Regions from separate parts of the Homo sapiens genome. Here region 1 is linked to region 2. The links come from fine-mapping of genetic effects on gene expression. A gene starts in region 2. The other region holds a variant in brackets. All regions are shown on one strand. Distances are from middle to middle.

Evidence for each region. PIP is the estimated chance that this variant, and not a neighbour inherited with it, causes the effect.
Region 1: its variant is the best candidate, but not a certain one, in a credible set for the expression of GNPAT in esophagus mucosa (GTEx, PIP 0.84).

The regions. Positions count from the first base shown.
Region 1 is chr1:231,800,778-231,803,692 of GRCh38, reverse strand. All of the region lies in intron 8 of DISC1 (DISC1 scaffold protein), which reads right to left. All of the region lies in intron 11 of TSNAX-DISC1 (TSNAX-DISC1 readthrough (NMD candidate)), which reads right to left. Among named protein-coding and RNA genes, the nearest start is that of DISC2, 16 kb to the left of the region's middle. The variant A/G (reference allele first, on the strand shown) is at 1,782.
Region 2 is chr1:231,240,072-231,242,986 of GRCh38, reverse strand. It overlaps GNPAT (glyceronephosphate O-acyltransferase), which reads right to left and starts at 1,775. Exons shown (of 16, transcript NM_014236.4): 1 at 1,531-1,775. The coding sequence starts at 1,608. It overlaps FSAF1 (40S small subunit processome assembly factor 1), which reads left to right and starts at 1,812. Exons shown (of 7, transcript NM_152379.4): 1 at 1,812-1,963. The coding sequence starts at 1,846. RefSeq lists enhancers at 873-1,762, 1,743-2,082.

The DNA.
Region 1 (2,915 bases), 560 kb before region 2:
ATAGGCGTGAGCCACCGCGCCTGGCATCTGTGGCTTCTGTCTTATTTGGTCTCTCTCCCTCAGATCACTGGCTCTGAGGAAATCAGCTGCTATGTTGCAAGAGGTCCTAGGGCACAGCTCTTGTGGCAAGGAACTGAAGCCGTCTGTTAACAACACATGCATGAGTTTGGAAGCAGATCTTTCAGCCCCAGCCAAGCCTTTAGACGACTGCAGCTCCAAAGTGTGTCTTAACAGCGACCTTATGAGACCCTGAGTCAGAGCCACCCAGCTAAGTCACTCTGGACTCCTGTCTCTCAGAGACTGTGAGAGATAAAGGTTTGTTGTTTCAAGCTATGAAGTTTGAGGAGCCACTTATTACACATTAATAGAGATGCATACCAGTGTCTGAATTCAGACCTTAAGAATAAGAAATTTCCATTTCCTTTCTCTTGGGACACTTGCTCTTGGAACCCAGCAGCCATGTTGTAAGGAAGCCAAGCTGCCTATAGAGAGGCCCACATAGAGAGCACTCAACAGCCAGACCATATGTATGCACCGTCTTGGGTGTGGATTCTCCCACCCCAGTTGAGCCACCCTAGCTGTCCCTGCCAAGCCCTGCCCAAATTGTATTTCCATGGGCAAAATAAATAACTGGTAATATTTTAAGTCACTACGTCTTAAAGTGACTTATTTTTTATTAGGCAGCAGTAGATAATGAAAATAGATTTTGGTATCTGGATATGGGATACTATTGTAACAAAATCCTAAAATCGAGGCATTGGTTTTGGGACTTGGTAGTAGGCAGAAGCCTCATGGGCCTCCGTGAAGGATAGAAAAAAGTAAGAAAAATATATCAGAAACTAGAAAAAAAAAGATCCTTGTAGTGGCAAAAAAGTCACTCAGTTACCAACTGAGGCAATATAAAAAAGAGTCCCTAATAATTGTAGTTAGACATCCAAGGAGATTTCCAGGCAGAATACAGAAGTGCCCACTGACCTCCTGTCAATGCCTGTGATGAAATGCAAGAGAAGAGAGATGAATTAAAGAATAAACTGTTACATGTAAAGGAGCTAGATCTGGCCAGGTTTGAAAATGAAACTAATTTGTTATTCCTACTCTCTGCAAATGGCAAATAGTTCTCAAATTAAGAAAGGACCTCAGGCCATAGATCAAAGTCAGGATGGATGTATTAGTCCTTTCTCACACTACTATAAAGATACCACCTGAGACTGGGTAATTTTTAAAGAAAATAGATTTAATTGACTCACAGTTCCCCATGGCTAGGAAGGCCTCAAGAAACTTACAATCATGGCGGAAGGCAAGGGGAAAGCAAGGCACCTTCTTCACAAGGTGGCAAGAAGAATGAATGCAGGAAGAACTACCAAACACTTGTTAAACCATCAGATCTCATGATAACTCACTCACTATCACGAAAACAGCATGGGGGAAACCGCCCTCATGATCCAAACACCTCCCACCAGGTCCCTCCCTTGAATGTGGGGATTACAATTTGAGATGAGATTTGGGTAGGGACACAGAGCCAAACCATATCAATCAGTCTATAAATCTAAGCGAATCATAGAAACTTGAAGAGAGACAAAAGACCCCCTAAGAATCTTAAGGACCTCCCTTAAGATCCTCTCCATTCAGGGCAGATCACAAGGTCAGGAGATTGAGACCATCCTGGCTAACACAGTGAAACCCCGTCTCTACTAAAAATACAAAAAATTAGCCGGGCGTGGTGGCGGGTGCCTGTAGTCCCAGCTACTTGGGAGGCTGAGGCAGGAAAATGGTATGAACCC[A/G]GGAGGCAGAGCTTGCAGTGAGCCGAGATCGCGCCATTGCACTCTAGCCTGGGCGACTGAACGAGACTCTGACTCAAAAAAAAAAAAAAACCAAGATCCTTTCCATTCAATAGGGCTTTTAAGAATCTTACCTAATGGAGTGAGGGTTTGCCCATTCTGAAGGTATTGAAACAGGAGAAAACAGAAATAGCATTATATGCAGGAGTTGCAAACAAATGTTGACCACCTTAACACTAGTATCACCTATGGGGACAGCCCATTGACTGAAAGGCCGGTCCACCAAAGAGCATACAGAGCAACCAGAAAATAGTGAGGTCAAAAGGTCAGTTACCAGGAGGGTTAATTCAGGTCATCCTTCAGCAGATCAGGCCTCACCAATTTTCTCAGCTGACCAAAGAGCTAAAACAGGAAACCTGCGCCATACGCAATATACCATCTTGGGCATTTTCCCTGGAGTCTGAAGAGAGATTGTTCACATTGGAGTGAGGCTATCTCTGCTGCCTGAATTATACATTTCTTCCCTTGGGCTTAACACAGACTCATCCACCGGTATTCCTGGGAAAGATATATTGATTAAGAAAGGCAAAAACCCTAACTCAGAAGCAAGACTGTGTTCAATCTTCTTTTTTTTTCTCTCAGCAAATGGGCCCATAATTTCAAGTAAATGGCATGTGAAGCTGTTAAGAGCCAAGCCCCACATTTGCGCTGCCATGTTCTACTGGTTGTAAATAATACGCGTGACTGCACCAGGGACCAAATTGCTCTTTAGCTGCCAACATTAGTTGTTTAATGATCTGAGGAGCAGAAGCTGCCAATTATTGTATTCCTTCTTAAAATACCATTTAAAACACATACATGTAATTATTATAACTTTTTGTTAAATTTTTATGATTCTTTTGAAGCTGATGAGCTCTGGGTCCATTCAACCTATAAAACTCAGAGAACTTTTTGAAGCTGTCATTACATAACTGGGTTAAAAATCCATATATAATACACCGAGAGAGGGCCTGGACTTTAGCCCCAGATCTGCCACTGCTTAGCTAATTGAGTGACCTTAACCAAAGGACACATCCCGCAGCCTCAACCTCCCCATCAGTCCATTCGGATCACGGTCTCTCTCCCATCTACCTAATA
Region 2 (2,915 bases):
GCTGGGGAAATAAAAACAGCCTGAAGTACTAAGAAAAAGTAAGGTTACCGTGGAAGTAAAGGTTATCCAGTCACAAAACAGTAGTGAGAACTACCAGTAAAGAGTGGGTTGCTGTCCAGCATCAGAACTACAGAATGCTCAGATACAACTGCCATAGTTTTTCACATGAAAAAGTGGACTCAAGTCTTATTAAAGAACCGTTGGTAAAGGGGAAGTAAAACAAACAAACAAACAAACAAAACCAACTCCTTCCTTTAATGTACAAAAGGAAAATTCCAACCAATTCACAAACCAGTTGGGAGCTTAAAAAGCTACATGTTAAAAGCTGGATCTGCACAGCAACCCTCTTCCCTTCGTGCCTGCTCTGGAGTAGCAGAGTCAGAAAACAAAGTTGATATCCACCACAGAACTGTGGGGAAGATAAGATCAATGAAGAGATATATCTAAATAATAAGGCTTATAGGCAGTTAGCAATCAGAAACCGAAAGGTCTTGATAGAGAGGGAACAGAAGTTTCTCCATGTTCCAAAGAATATTGGTGTCTCAATTTGAAGGAACCCATATATTCTCTTTCAAAACTGGGGTGTTTATCTTGCTCTGCTGTGTTATCCCTGTTTTGACCTTTCTGCACAAATGAACACTACATTTAAGCCAAAATTGGACAGTAATCACCAGGATATGCTAATATGCTTTTAAAATGAATTCTTTCATTTTCTCCTAAAGTAGCTAAAAACTAATTTAGTGGTTAAAAACAACAAGAAACAAACAAAAACCAAACCAGTTGCCCCAGGTCTGTGCAATCCTGAAGGCTATAAAGCTCCCATCTCATAATTTCTTCATGAAAATCGTGGGTGACCAACATCTGCCAGCCAAAAAGACCCGTTAAAACCAAGAGAGGAAGAGGGGGTTGGAGGAAAAAAAGACAAGCGGGAGAGAAGCTGGGTGGCGCTGGCTGTCCTCCAAAATGATTTGTGGAAAAGGTACAATAATGACTGGAAGACAAGAACAGGCAATAAAAATGTCTAGAAGTTCTAAATTTTCCTGAAGTGTTTAAAACTCTATTCCCACATACAAGCCAAGTGCTCTACTCCCAGGAATATAACAGCAGCATAGGGCGGGGTGCGGAGCCACAGGCTATCTCAGGGCGGGTCAAACCCGCAAGTTTCTCAGGTTTGCCCAAAAGGTAGCTCGACATGCCCTCGCTAGAGATGGGGAGACTCCAATTCTCATTCCTCATTCTCGTGTCCAGGAGCTTTCTGAAGGCCCCAGGGCCTGATAGAAAGAAAGAGAAGGAAAAAGTGGAAAGGAACCAAAGGAACCATAATCCGTAGAAACTTCCAAAAGCATGCACACACAGACACACAGCGATACACTGTTGTCCTGGAAACCAATCCAACCAACTAACCCCTCCTCGGGAGCCTAGGGGCCAGCTCTTTTGGGCAAGGGTGGTGGGCCGGAGGAATAGGGACTGGGAGAAAGGGGTACTATTTCGCGCGGCTCCGCTCTGGGCCTCTTTTCCCTGGGCGCCTACCGAGTAGAGGAGCACGACAGCGCTGGGACTGGTTGGGCCAACGGAGAAATAAGAGTTAGATGAACTGGAAGACTCCATGGTGCGGCTGCCTTCCCGGGCGGGGTCTGGGATTCTTTGCTAAGCCGTGGTGGTGCTCCTGCTGGGGGCGGTTCTTTCGCTCAGGACGGCCCTACTTCGCCTAGGGCGGCGGCACCCTCTGCAGCCGCTACACAGGATCCCGGGCGCCGCCATCTCAGCCAGGACGGAAGCCGCGCAGGGCCCTGCAGCGCATGCGCGCAGTCGCGGAACCCGGAAGCGGGGGTGCAGCGCGGCAGAATGAGGGTTGATTCCTCGGCTGACCCCACAATGTCGCAGGAGCAAGGGCCGGGGTCCTCCACGCCTCCCAGTTCTCCGACACTTCTTGACGCTCTGCTCCAGAACCTTTACGACTTTGGTGAGTGCGGGGTCCCAGGAGCCCACGTGGAGAACAGATTTGAGGAACGTGGGTCTCCTGTGTTGCCCGTCCTGGGTTGGCCTCTGCTTTGAGGCTAAAGGTTCTTGCATGTCAAGCACCCTTCGTCCCACCTGGTTCCAGTAGCGAACACATTTCTCCATCGGAAGTCACCCCTCGACCGGGCTCTGCTGAGTTATTCATCAAACCTTCCAACTCGTCCCCAAGTGTGGGGACCATCCTACTTGCTTGTAGGAAGCACCAAGGCTTTCCGATTTAAAAGTAGCCCGCTTTTCCACGTTTTCTTGAGCCCTGGGAAGTCCCCTTTCCCCATGCCACCCCCAAGACCTGCCTGACCCTGGTGCGATGGTGTCATTTCGCTCTGGGGCCTCGGGCCTGTTGGATAATACACCAGCTTCATCCTTGTGTGTCCCTCTCCAGAGACATCATAGTCCTTGGCGAGTTGTCCTTTTCACGACTTTTTTTTTTTTAAACAAGTGCGCTGATCTTTTACTCTCCGTTCTTTGTCTTGATGGGGGAAAAGGAAAATAAAAGAGCCTATTAAAGTCGCATGGCATGTCAGTAGGAAGACAGTGCCTCATACTCTGAAGAGCTTTCCCGGGAGAAGGTGACACCCTTTGCACATGCACCAAAGAAAATCATTAGATTTCAGGACAACACACATTTCTTAAATTTACAGCGTGATATTTTAAAAGCTATTTTTATTTTGGAATGACTGCTCAAAATTCTAAGTTCACCTAAACAGTAGGAATAATAGTTAAAACTGTTGAGAACTTGCCATATAGCACATGCTTTTCGTGTATTTGCTCATTTAATTTTCAACTTCATGAAATAGACACTGTCATAAATCCATGATTGCAGATGTAGAAACAAGTACTAGAAGTTCATGAAACCTGATGCAGGTTGTCTGACTGGTAATTTTTGCAGAGCCTGG